Linked DNA regions of Homo sapiens. The protein of the gene in region 4 purifies or fractionates together with the protein of the main gene of each other region. This does not show direct contact. Each region holds a gene or a part of one and is shown on either strand. Other genes may lie near its edges.

Region 1 (3,500 bases), on a different chromosome or scaffold from region 4:
GTGGTAGCAGCATTTACTCAGTCAACACTGGAGCATCCCTGTACTGTCCAAGGTTGTACATTTAAAATCCAGCTGGGAGGTGAGAGATGATGACTTTAATGGCTGCTCCATAAGTGCCATGTCATGGCACAACCATGCTCACAAGAAACAGCCTCTGTTTGCTTCTGGCTGAGGTGATCAAGGAAAGCTTCAGAGAGGAGTTGGAAGACTAACTCTATCACAGTGTACAGATTGGTTCAGGAGACAAGTCGAGCCATCCATTTGAAACAGGGGAACTAATGTGACCACTCCAAACCTGTCTTTTTCCTCACACCAGCTCTCCTCCATACACTGTGCCCTTGCATCTGTCCCTAGTGGCTCCAGCCTTCAAGTCTCTCAGACCCGAACACCCTAAATTCCCTCTTCTAAAAAGCCTTGTCCTGCCTGCCTACAGATGCTTCCTTGGCTATTTTCTGGGCCACTGTGCTAGGCCGGACTTTTATCACCTTCCCCCATCACCATCCACCCGTTTTCCTTCTGTAATAAGCCAACCCTTTCCCAAAGCCCCTCACCAGGAAGCCCTTTCAGACTACATAGGTCCTCCCAGTCTAGTTTTGTCTGCACCAGGGTTCTGCGCTGCCCGACAACCCCCACCCCAGTCTGCACCCAGCTTCAGCCACAAACATCCCAAATGGGTGAGCCTGGCAGGAGGGGGACACGGAGGTGTCCTCAACCCCCATCTTGGCTAGTCTCATCCCAGTCCCAGCACTCACGGATCCTTCCCCAGCCCGCTCCATTGCGAGAGGCGCGCAGAGGCGCGCGAGGTCCAGAGAGCTGCACTGGCCTGGGGAGCCGGCTGGGTCCGAGGGCCGCGGGAAATCGGAGGAGCCAGGGCGCCAGCATAGCTGCACCGCCTCCAGCTGCAGCGCTCAGGACGCCGGTGACATCAGCTCCCAATTGCCGCGAGAGCAACTGAGGGGTACCAGGGCGCTGGAGGTCCCTCCGGGCACCTGGCTGGGCTTGGCTCAAGGCGGTGCCTCCACCGAGACTCCATCGCGGCGGGACCGGACCTCCAGGAGTGCGCCCGCGCCGCCCTGGAAAAGGCTCCTGGCCTTCACGACGTGCTCCAGCTCCGGGAGGCCCCTCCCGCGTAGCGTTTGCCCTCCAAGGTGACCCCTTGCCTGAGAGTATGGAGGGCGAATAGTGTATAAATTGGGAGAGCTGGGGCCCTAGGGAGGTCACTGGGCCCAGCATGGATGAGTGGGACCACGAGTCCAGACACCTCCTCTATTTCCCTACTGATCTCCAGCCCCAAATCCACTCTCCCAAGGCCCAAGGCCGGGAGCGCCCTAGGAAACTGGCTCCCACCCTTTCAGGCAGAGGAACTGGGAATCCTGGCTCAGGATCTGGACCCTTGTGCTTCTAGCGTTTCCCCAACCCAGGGATAGTTCCTTGTTGCCCCCTCCCCACCCAAACACACCCTCTCCCCAAGCGGGCAGCATTTCCCCTGGGAAAGAGCGCAGAGCTGGGTGTCAGCTGGACCCGGGTCAGATCCCAAGGGGCTAGAGGATGAGTCATGGGCCCCACACACATTAGGCCCCCTGTTGATATCCCTTCCACCCCTCCCACTCTCTTAAGTCTCTGACTTCCTGCTCTGCTTCTCACTACCCTTTTTTCCCTTCAGAATCTCCACCAGGGCTAAGTACAAATCCTGGTTTAGGGACTTGACAAGCCCACAGAATTTGACCCCTGGAACCTGAGTTTGTAAAATGGGGAGTATTCCACCTCCTTCGTAGCATTGTTTGAGAATTATATGGGAAAGTCTCATCTCTACCTGGGCCTAGCACATATTTTAAAATAAGCCCCCTTTACTTGCAACTTGAGTCACTTCCTCCAGAAAGTCTTCTTGGATTTACTCTTCCACGACTATCTCTTTTGCCATTCCCTGAAACATCAATGGGTCTCTCTTTTGAGGACCTGCTGAACTTGGTTGAGAAAGAACACAGCACCCTCAGCCACTCTCCTAAAGGAGAGTGACCAAAGTGAAACTAAGCATCTCCTCTGCCCCAGAACTTGAACAGGCCTTCCACAGAGAAAATTTACATTTTTTGGAGGAGGGTAGGATGCAGAATTTAAACATTTACATACCTAGACCAGCTCTGTCCAATAAAACCTTCTGCGGTGATGGAAATGTTCAGTAGCCATCTAGCACTTGAAATATGGCTACAGCAACTAAGGAATTAATGTTTTGTTTTATTTTAATGAACTAAAAGTAAGATTTAAATAGCCATATGTAACTGATGTGGACAGTGCAGAGGACTATGAATGGCAAATAGGTTTTATCTCATGCACTGATGGAGGATAATTAGGTAGAGTCCCAACGAGTTCACTGGACACCTTTCCACAAATTAGAAAAAGCTGACCCTCTCCAGGCAAACAAATTAGATAAACGTGCTCCCTCCTGATGCCGCTGAAACCAGACCAGGACTCTCACCTCTGGCTGGCACCTGTGTGAAGGACACAACCTGCACAGTTTATGCCAAGACGGTCCTGAGAAAGATTCTGAGGCCAGGTCTGGGCTCGTTGATAAAGAGTGCCAAAATTGACCAGTAACATCTACTATGATCCAGGGAGTGGGGGCAGGGCTTGAGGGGGGACAGCACATACAATATCCTGCCATTCCTGATCTAGACTCTTTGCAGTCCTGCCTCTGACCTCTCAGCAGCAGCCCCTGCCTGGTCCAGGCAGTCACTTCCACAACTTCCTCCATCTTCCCCATCTCCGTAAACAGCCACACCACCCAGTTGCTTAGCCACATACCTGGGAATCATCCTGGAGTTCTCTTTCTTTGCCCTCCCATCCAATCCATCAGCAAATCCTGTCAGACCTACCACCACCATTTGAAATCTACTCCCTTTCTCCACCATGAGCATTTTAATTCACACCACCAGGTTCACTCCCACCTGAAGTGGGAGTGAAACAGCCTCCCACCTGGTGGACATTTGCGAACTCTCTTGCCAACCCTCCACCCCCAACCCTACCCTCAACTTCCCACCAGCCTATTCTCCATAGCAGCCATCATTTAAAAACATGGCATGAGTCATTCCCTTGCTTAAAACCCTTCCATGGCCCAACATCACACTTAAGGTGAAATCCAGGTGCCTTATCATGGCCTTCAAGGCCCTGCATGATCTGGCCCCTGCCCATCAGCTCCACCCCAACTACTATATTCCAGCCACACTGGCTCTCTCTTTCCCACAAATATATTACCCTCATCCTCATATCAGGGCCTTTGCCCTTCCTCCAGTCTTCACATATCTCCAAATCCTCCTGGGCTTAGCTCAAAGATCTCCCAACAGAGGCTTCCCCTGACCTCCACATCTAACATTGCCTCCCTCATCTGATTTTCATTACATCCCCATTTTCATCATAATTTCTTTATGTGATATTATTTATGTGTTCGTATGTATATTTCTGTTCTCCCACTACAATGGAACTTTCTTGTCTTATTCACTGAGGTA
Region 2 (2,807 bases), on a different chromosome or scaffold from region 4:
GCAGGTGTGAGCCACCAGTCAGCCAGAAATTTAATGTAGTTTAGAAGGATTACAAAAGTATTTCTACATACCTTTAAATTTTGACTAATTTTGCCTCTGGCAATGGGATCAAAATAAATGCAGCAATTCTTATTTGTAATGCAACAGCATGTCTTAGAACAGTTAGATCTCAAGTAAACTTTACAAATAAAGTACTGGAATTAATTTACATTTAAAAATAAATTAGCCCAGTGGCCTAAAATTAAATCCGAGGCTCCAAATAAAAATTTCAGCAAATTCCCCTATTATCTGTTAACACCGAAAAATATCAGCTGCTATAAATTATTTGTGCATTATTCCTGGGGAGAAAGCAAGCAAGCCGCTGTCATGGCAGTCTCTATTTTCTTTGACCCTAACTTATCCTCTATGATCCTGAATAAATGGTAGGTAGTACCCCTGCACTAAACTTGGGAAGTACTTAAATAAATATAGTCTCTTTAAAAGAACTGATCACAGATGTCTAAAATTAAAACGTTTGATTTATTAATAAACAAAGTATCTCTCTTAAATGGGCCAAGAAACAATTCTATGACAAAAGTGAACCCTGGAATATAGATATTCCCAGAAGACAATTTTCCAGGATACCCAGCCAAACAATTTTCACCTAGTCACAAAAGTCATTTTCATCGAAGCCTACAGTCATTCCTTTTTCTAATTCTATTCTCTCATTTCTTTCTAAACATGATTTTAATAAAGCATATACCTGTCAAAGACTTCTCTTTGCAAAAGACATAGGAACAGCAGTCAGGAAGAGGACTCTGAAGCCCAGTCACTCCACAGATCCAAAGTTTATGGCTGTGTGCCCTTGTAACTTAGCCTCTCTGCATCTGTTTCCTTGTCTGTAGTGGTACTAGGTTGGCGCAAAAGTAATTGCGGGATATTTACCTCATAAGAGTGTTGATGGTTAAATACAAGAGTGAATAACTTAAGACATATAGAACAGTGCCAAGCATGTACTAAATGCTCAAAAGAGTTTGAGCTATTATCATTCCAGCTTTTTCATCAAACCAAATGGTATCCTCCTAAGCAGCCCAGGGATTACAATGACAAACCTAGTCAGAGGTAAATCAAAGGATTAAATATGTTCAGGAATACAGAGATTTGTGAATACAGAGTAAAGATACTATAATCAATCCCTAGTTATTATTTTTCACAATGGTACCTAGTTATTATTATTTTTATAGATAAAGGGGTCTTGCTATGTTGCCCAGGCTGGTCTCAAACTCCTGGGCTCAAGCAATCCTCCTGCCTTGGCCTCCCAAAGTGCTAGGATTACTGGTGTGAGCCACTGTGCCCAGCCCCTAGTTTTTAAAATGATTTCACTTATGTGTATGAACCCAAACATTCTGAAAATACTAAAAATTTCTATCAATATCTGTCTTACTCATTCTTCAGATTATCCTTTAGATTTTCAGTAGTGCCACATAATTTTATAACTAAATTTTATTATAGCGGAATAATTCAAAGAGTTGTAGTTTTGAAATAAATTTTGCTATGATTAGAGAAAATCTATTCAGAAAGTACAATATACATTAATTTATGGCACTTGTCCAAATATTACCAGCATACAAATTATTGTTTAAGGTTGTTTCTTACATATGGGATCTAATATGCAAAGAAAACTGGAATTTGTATTCAAAACAAATAGAAGCAACACTGGCTCCTATATACTAAAAATATAAGACAGATTTTTTTCTTAAACACTCTGGATACAAATACTAACTGTATGGATTGAGAACTTTGAAGTTTTCATAATGTAAGTCACAAAGTATACAAGTAGAGCTCTATAAATATATCCCCTATAATAATCATATGCAAAACCATTCTATCACAAACACTACCAAAACCCTTTGAAAAACATAAACTACAACACATTTTCAAAGAAATTATTAGTTATAACAACTACAAAAGCAATAAATATCAATAAAGTTATTTGGCTGTCAGAAATGAAGGGCAGTATAATGTAAAATTCAAATACTGCAAAGTTGTTTTTTGAAGATGTAGTCTCGAGTTTCTTCTTCTTCTTTTTTTTAAATTTTAGAGACAGGATTTCACCATGTTGCCCAGGCTGGTCTCAATCTCCTGGCCTCAAGCAATCTGCCCGCCTCGACCTCCCAAAGTGCTGGGATTACAGGAGTGAACCACCACGCTTGGCCAAGTTTCTTAATACAAGGTACTAAACACTCTTTCAAAAATAATAAGACTTGTTCCATATAAAGTTGAGCAAGAACTCTAAAAAGAAAAAATTAAGCAACAGATGAAAAGTAGGTATGTGGAAATAATGGTATCAAATATGATTTTATACAAAATGTACCATTCTTCAAATGTGTAAGTCTTAATATGAATATTTTTGGATTGTGAGTGTTGCTCAGCCTAATTTTTAAAGAATTAGTCTCAAACCATTCAAAATCCAGTATTTCTCAAAAGTTCTGATATTACTAATGTGGTCATGGTGCAGGATGCAATTTCATGTCAACTTACCTATACTGTTCTACCCAATAAAAATATAACCTTTGAGCTTAGGAGAGAATGTATCTTTTGAATGTTTGATCTCTATATATATTCTACTTTTTGGAACATCAGAATTTTGTAATATGAACTAATATCCACCAGGAATTGGCCCAAGTTTAAACAGAAGACACAAAAGAGACATAGGTGTCAAACAGCTTAAGTCTGCTCTATGCAATTATACAGTCATAGTTACTTTTTACATGAAAGTGCTTTAAAGTCAAAAATATTTGTGTAAAAGGTATTATTAATAGTACTAA
Region 3 (3,500 bases), on a different chromosome or scaffold from region 4:
CAAAACCTTAGAAGCGTAACTTTCTTCACTGAACTTTTTTAGCTACGAGGGTGAGTGGGAGGGAAATGTGATTTTCCTTTTTGATCCTTCCTGTGTCCAAACAGGCACATTTTAAGTTGCTTTCTTATCTCTAAATTCAAATACAGCTTTATCATGTTACATGTTTTGTATCTATAACTTTTCTATTCACTTTGTTAATTTTACCAAAAGTTTTTTTGACTCGACTTTGTTTCCATCAGTGTTGTCTCTTTCAGAGAGTGAACATTAGGAGAGCAGGAACTAGATTTATCAACTGTTTTTCTCAACTCTTCCTGCTTTTTGTTGAAGGGAGAATACAGAAATGAAAGGAGGTAGAAATTCCATTCTAAAAAGTTTTACGCTGATTCATAAATCTTAAATTATCCATGACATTGCACTAAGATGTGTTTCAGGCTAACTTGAAAGAGTGAGCCATCCCTTCTGTCTGAGATGCAACTTTTATGTAATGTGAGTGGAATTCAGGAAAGCCAAGAAGGGATGTAAAGAAAATAGTTTGCCTTATTTGATTATCTTAGCTCATCTAATATTCAAGTACTGTGAAGTTATATTTCTGTTTTTAAATAGTGTTTTATTACATTCTGAAGTAAGAATATTTACAGGCATTCTAAGTCTGTGTTTACAAGTTCAAAAACTATTTCTATTTTTTTGTTGTTTGTTTAAGAGCCTGGGTATTACCATGTTACCTAGGCTGGTCTCAAATTCTTGGGCTCAAGCCATCTGCCTGCCTTGGCCTTCTAAAGTGCTGGGATTACAGGCACAAGGCACTGTGCTGGGCCTGGAAATTTTCATAAATACTTCTGAAGTGTATATCTCTGAATTATTGGGGCATTTGAATAGTTATTCATCAGCACAGTTCCTTCTACTGCCCTGAAACATTGAGAGCTGGCGTTGTATTTTAGGCTGTACCAGTTAAAGAATCTGAGAAGATCTCATTTTGGAATGTGGAAGTATTTTATGAGGAACGCTACATCTTTCTGGTGACCCTACCATATTGCACTGTAATTCTTTCACAACAGGAACTGTAGTGTTCCCCCAACCCCACCCCCTTCCCACATCTTCTTCTTGTAACCTTTAAACTGCTCTTTATGCCCTTGGCACGATGTTGTTTCTTTCATTCTATTCCTTGAATTAGGAATAGAATGTGCTCCCTTCCTTACCACTTAATCATTTCTTGAAAAAAAATTTTTTTCATTATTCTGCTTGTTGGTTATTTCATTGTAAAATAGGTAAATAAAGAAGATGTCAAATGAGCACCTACCTCTATTTTATCTGAAGTTTAGTGGAGAAGATCATGACCAGAGATTTGGAGGTAACAGCATAGAGATGATATTTAAAGCTGCAGGCACCTACAGTATCAACAGACAGAGTACTGGTTGCCATGCAGATTTCCAGCCAGTAACTTAATTATTCTGCCTTTGTTCAGCTGCACAGACAAATGTGAGCCAGCCCAATCAACACTCTGCTTTCCACAGTGATATTATTACTCCAGTGGACCCATGCTTCTGTCTCATCCTAATACACTCAGTGCTCACATGCATCCTGATAGAAATACCTTTTATACCCCTTTCCAGAAATATGAAAAATGTCAAGAGAGATAAACCATAGACACCACCTTTTCAATGGACCCCAACTAAAGACTGAGTAGTGGGCAAAAAGAGGCAAGAGAAAATGAAGAAGCACATGGTTATCACAGAGGTCCAGAAAAGAGAGGTTCAGGATGGAGGATGGGTTCAGGAGTACAGATGCTTCACAGAGCCAGAATGACAAGGGATTTTTGGCAATCAAGAGATCCCATAAGAGGTTCTGCTTTCAGCATTCTCAGGGACTTGATATTCTAAATGGCTGACCTACTGTGGTACAATTAGTCCCAGCAGGAGATTGTAAGCTCTGTTATTAAAGAGCTTACAATCAAAATGGAAAGTGTATAGGAAGGAGGCATGACCCATGCATCCCCCGTCATCTTCTTACTTGTCTGTGTCTCCCTGCTACACCTGGAGCTTTCCTTGAAGGAGGGACTGGTGGATGTATGGTCCATGCTCTGAAGACACTACAGAAACACAGGGGGTGATTTGGATGAGAGGAGGAAGCATTTCTTCTGGAAGAATGGTGGGTTAGGTTGTGAGAGATCTTGAGTGATGAAAAGACTTTCAACTAGTTGAATTGAACTCATTGAACTAAACTGTGGGCCCTCTAGATGGAATTAGTATTCTAGCTACCTGGATCTACCATAGACTTAGATAGTATCTAGAGCTGTAAAATTAAACATGTAATAAGGAAAATTTTTATATAGCCTGCTCTTTCAACAGATGGAGGTGACATGCTGTGAATTCGTATTGCTCTTCTGTTTAATTCTATTGCTTTTTACCATATTGGTACTTAGGCAGGTTTGCTGATATTTAAGAGAGTTGCTGATCATTGTCAACATAGGTTTGCTGTTTCAGTCAACCCTAAGGAATAGATGTGAAGGTATTATTGATCTGTCATCATATGATACACATCGATGGACAGCATTATTTTTGACTGGTAGTTTAATAAGTGCAAAGCATGTATATTTCCATATATGCTAGTCAGTGCCCAAAGTTTATATTGTACCCCAAAGGGGTTTGATGCTATAAATAAGAATGAGAAAAGGGAGGGAGGGAGGGAGGGAGATGGAAAATGAGAGGGAGAAAAAAAAAACATAGAAAAGGAAGGTCCTTATGACTGAAAAAAAATCTGTTATTTAACATAATTGCCCATCTCGAACCTCATCAGTTTTTACAAGCCATTAAAACGTGGCTTCTCTCTCTCCCATGTGCTTATTTATATTTTGAAATGAAAAGAAAACATTGAGTCGTTGTTATATAATGTAATGGGAGTCTTGAAATTTCTTTTGAATTGGTAAGAAATTTTTATATTTAAAAATAAGATTTTATAAACTCATTAAAAATATTGGAAGTATATGAGATGGTTTGGAAGAGAAATACTGATGGTGGAGACTGAGCATTTCCAAGTCAGTTTTATTTCTTGTATTTTACTGCCAGCTTTTAGTTTCCTCCTCTAATGGAAATAACTTCACATATCCTGGGAAAGACAGCTGTGCAGTAAAGTATTTTCTAAGGCACATGAAATGTGGCAAGAGTTTTTATCATGGTGGGATTGGTGTGTTGTCCTTTTAGAGAATGAATGTTTGGGGAATGAAAGATGATTTATTTGGATTTCTGTGAGGTTGTGAGAAATGTTGAAAGCATCTAATTTTTATAAAATCTACTTTAGAAGTATTATTTATGCTATGTAGAGTATTCATTGAAATAATCAGCTTTTGGGGAGATGTTGAACAGGTGTTTGCATTTTGGTTCAGTTGTTCAATTTTCCTTCCATTTTATGAGAATCACTTCTTGAACCTTTGCTATGGCCATATATGCTGTCCTTTGATATCCTCGGAAGCAACAGTTAGCATGTTTTGTCACTTGAAGGGTTAT
Region 4 (3,500 bases):
GTATAACTGACCCACTCAAAGACTGTCTAAATTCTCTAAGGGTATGCACATTTGTTTTCATTCACTATTGTCAGTTAGGGTATTTGAAAACTCTGTAAGAACAGACATCAACTTATCAAAAACTATGAGTGATGCAAATGATTACTGCTCTAAAATGTCAAACGTATTTCCTTCTGGATGGATGCAAATGGTTTCTGTCCATTATAATCCAAAGGTTACAACAGGGGTGTCCAATCTTGGGCCACACTGGAGAAGAATTGTCTTGGGCCACACATAAAATACACTAACGATAGCTGATGAGCTTAAAAAAAAAAAAGGCAAAAAAAATCTCATAATGTTTTAAGAAACTTTGAGTTTGTATTGGGTGGCATTCAAAGCCATTGTGGGCCTTGTGCGGCCCACAGGCCACAGGTTGGACAAGCCTGGGTTACAATTTTATTGTCCTATAGGGTATCAACCAGTTTTGTGATTCAAAAATCATATTCTAGAATATTTTAGCGACTAAAACACTGATAATCCTACTGTGTTGCTGTAAATCAGCTTTACTATCCTGCAGCTTCTCTTGTTAAGGAAATCATGAATCAAAAATGAATCAAAGTAATCTCTCACAGATATTCATTCTAAGAGAAAAACCTGTGCTTAAAAGAGAAAGGAAAAATGCAGTTGTTTGTTCTCATTCATTGGTGAGACTCTCAAGGGATGTTTCCCCGTCTTATTTTCAATATTTCAACAATAAGTATAAATTCATTTTAAATGGAAAAAGACAACTCAATAGATCTTGTGAGTATGTGTAGTTTGGAATCACTGTACGTGATAAGAATCAGAGCTAAAGATAGTAAGGTTGTGTATGAACAGTGTGGAGAAAAGCTGAGCACCACTGAGGCAACTCCAACTTTCTAGACAACTTGCTATAAAGACAAATTTACTACCTAATTCTTGGTGAGTCATGATTTCACTGACTACTTCTCATAACCATACACAAGCAAATTTAATGATATAAATAATACAAGTCAGCATTTCCTCATAGTCTTAAAGAGAAGTTTGTAAGACTCAGAAATTTCATAAAATTCCCAACTCCTCTGTTATGTTTTTAAAGAATTTATACTTGTGAGAAGTCCGCAGAGCAACTAAATTAACATTAATTCCTGGAGGCCTTCAAGATAGCCAAACAAGCCTATTAATAGTGATATGGGAAGAAGAAGGATAGCAGGAGAGAAGAGAAAGATAGCAGCTGTGGCTAGTGAACATGAATATCCTATATTCCCACATATCCTGGAGTCCATCTCCAAGGCTGCCCTGTAGATGCTGGTTAATGAAACAGTGAGGTCAATCACTGTTGAGATGAAGATTACCAATCGCTCCATTTCCTGCTCCCTGAGTCTTTCCTCCCTCTGCCGCCGGTGATAATCCATCAGGTCATCACGTCCTGAAATGGAGCTAATACTGCTTTTCCGTTCCCGAAGGGCAGGCTGGGGGGTTCCTGAGGCCTGTCTGAGGCTTTCCAAATCTGCCTCATCAAATTCCACAGATCCACAAGAGAAGTTCCTCCTGGTCGCAAAAACTCTGTCTGACTCTCCAGCAAGAAGTGAATGACTCGGGTTTGTCCCCACATATGAAGCCTGATCAAAGTCATCAGAGGCACAGGAGGAGGTGGAGGCCAGAAGCATCTTCCGAGCCACTCGTGGACTGGCAGGGACACTGAGGGTAGAACTTACATAAGGATTGCCTTCAGAAGCAGAGGTTTTATAGGGTAAAGCCCCTGAGCTCAAAGAAGAAAAATTAAGGTAATTGTCATTGTCTATTACGCTATGAGGTAGATCCTTTTCCCCAAGTTTTGTTCGTTTGGAATTGCCCAGAGAGTTTCTTGGAGGCAAGCTGAGAGGTGTCAGCTGGTTCTCTGTGGCTCTGTACAACCTGGGAAGTGATCGGCTGTAGGCTCCCATGTGACTCAGGCTGCTGCTGGAGTACTTCCTAGTTCTCAAATTGATGTTTTCAGATGCAAGCTCCTTGTGTCTAGTTAACTTGGGTTGAAGCGCCAGGCTGTCCTGAATGCTCATTTTCCTGGCTTGCTTTGGGCTTGAAGGCATGCTTGCGGCTCCCGATCTGCTGATAGGAGGCGGGCCAGCATCACTCAGGGAACTTCCATTCCACATGGCCAGGAGCGAGCCAGATGCCTTCCGACCTTCCAGCCCTCCAAGAGAGTAGACATTGTCATGCGATTTATGCCTTGAGCTATATTTGGAATAGGGAGGCTTCTCTGAGAGCCTCAAGGCCCTTTCACTGTCCCGGCCAGTATAATGATCAAAGTCTGCTCTTCCAAGTGGATATCCACTGAGGGAGGATGTAGTGTTGAGTAAAGGAGTTGGAGGTTTCATAGGAATATTTTTGTCAGTTCCATCATAAGAGAACTGCTTGCTTCCCTGGATTTTGGCTAAGGAGGGGCTGCTTCTGACACTGGTTCCCAAAGGAGAAGGGCTTCTCTTTGCAGGCACAGGTTGTGAGAGGGTTAAATAGGAGCCAGAATAGTCTCCATTGGCTTTAAATCTCAGACTGGAAGAGTATTTCTTTGGGCTGAGGCTCTCCATCATGTTTTGGGAATCGTTCTCAACAGAATGCACCACAGAGTCTTCCTCTAAGCTACCATTTTGTAAATCTAGCTCCTTTTGTATGTAGCTATGCTCTTCCATAATCTTGCTGGAATCTGTAAAGAAATAAAACAGAAAATTTTGCCTTAAAGAAGATTTTAAAAGAACAATCCCTTGTTAGGCCTACATCTGAACAAACAATCTTGCAGTCTGACCTAATGCAACTAACAAACACAAACTCAGTTTTACTAAAAAACCTGTTAAAACCATACAGCAAATTAAAGGAGAATAAAGATCATTGACCTGAGATAACTTATGTACAAAAGAGAAATAAAAGGACAGCAATGACATTTGAGCGAAACAAATCCCTAACCAAGTAAAGGTGCAGGATTAGGCTGGTACATTAAAAAAGACAATTTGTCCTTAATGTTCTGGCCCTTCGAGGAACACCTGCTTCCCTAGTGACTAGCTAATGCCCAAAGGCATAATGCAATGGACTTTCCTATAGCTGTCTCTGCTAGAATCATTAACTGTTCAGAAATAAAGTCCTGAGGAAACAAAATTCACATTTGGGCAGAGAAAAAAAAGTTTACGTTAGACACTGATCAATAACATGAGGGTTAGAAGATGGTTCTTTAAACAAGGACTCTGGGAGTTACCTTCTCAACAAAAAGACTTAAAGCTCCTTTAGTCATCAGAGGTAGGTAATAACAAAGAAAAGGGTATTCCACCAATTATTGACACATGGTCGGGATGGTATATTTAAAAACCTGAAACTGTTATATCCTTTAAATTTTCTAGTACCCCAAATGCACTATGCTCATCCTTGCAAATTCTCTCCTCTAGCAGAAACAACTATCAGGACCTAGTCACTCTTCCAGGGACAGATCAGGATTCTATCTTCCACCATTAAAA

The links.
Region 1: the proteins of PHLDB2 (region 4) and RTKN purify together in Homo sapiens (affinity purification with mass spectrometry, with the first as the bait; one large-scale study listed by BioGRID). This does not show direct contact.
Region 2: the proteins of PHLDB2 (region 4) and SRSF12 purify together in Homo sapiens (affinity purification with mass spectrometry, with the first as the bait; one large-scale study listed by BioGRID). This does not show direct contact.
Region 3: the proteins of PHLDB2 (region 4) and SIPA1L1 purify together in Homo sapiens (affinity purification with mass spectrometry, with the first as the bait; one large-scale study listed by BioGRID). This does not show direct contact.

What each region holds. Positions count from the first base shown.
Region 1 is NC_000002.12:74,435,438-74,438,937, forward strand, and holds part of RTKN (rhotekin), read right to left. Parts: intron 1-3,500. UniProt on the Homo sapiens protein: Mediates Rho signaling to activate NF-kappa-B and may confer increased resistance to apoptosis to cells in gastric tumorigenesis. May play a novel role in the organization of septin structures.
Region 2 is NC_000006.12:89,095,459-89,098,265, forward strand, and holds the end of SRSF12 (serine/arginine-rich splicing factor 12), read right to left. Parts: 3' UTR 501-2,807; downstream 1-500. UniProt on the Homo sapiens protein: Splicing factor that seems to antagonize SR proteins in pre-mRNA splicing regulation.
Region 3 is NC_000014.9:71,582,476-71,585,975, forward strand, and holds part of SIPA1L1 (signal-induced proliferation-associated 1-like protein 1), read left to right. Parts: intron 1-3,500.
Region 4 is NC_000003.12:111,883,265-111,886,764, reverse strand, and holds part of PHLDB2 (pleckstrin homology-like domain family B member 2), read right to left. Parts: intron 2,702-3,500; coding exon of another isoform or gene 2,688-2,701; coding exon 1,353-2,687; intron 1-1,352. UniProt on the Homo sapiens protein: Seems to be involved in the assembly of the postsynaptic apparatus. May play a role in acetyl-choline receptor (AChR) aggregation in the postsynaptic membrane.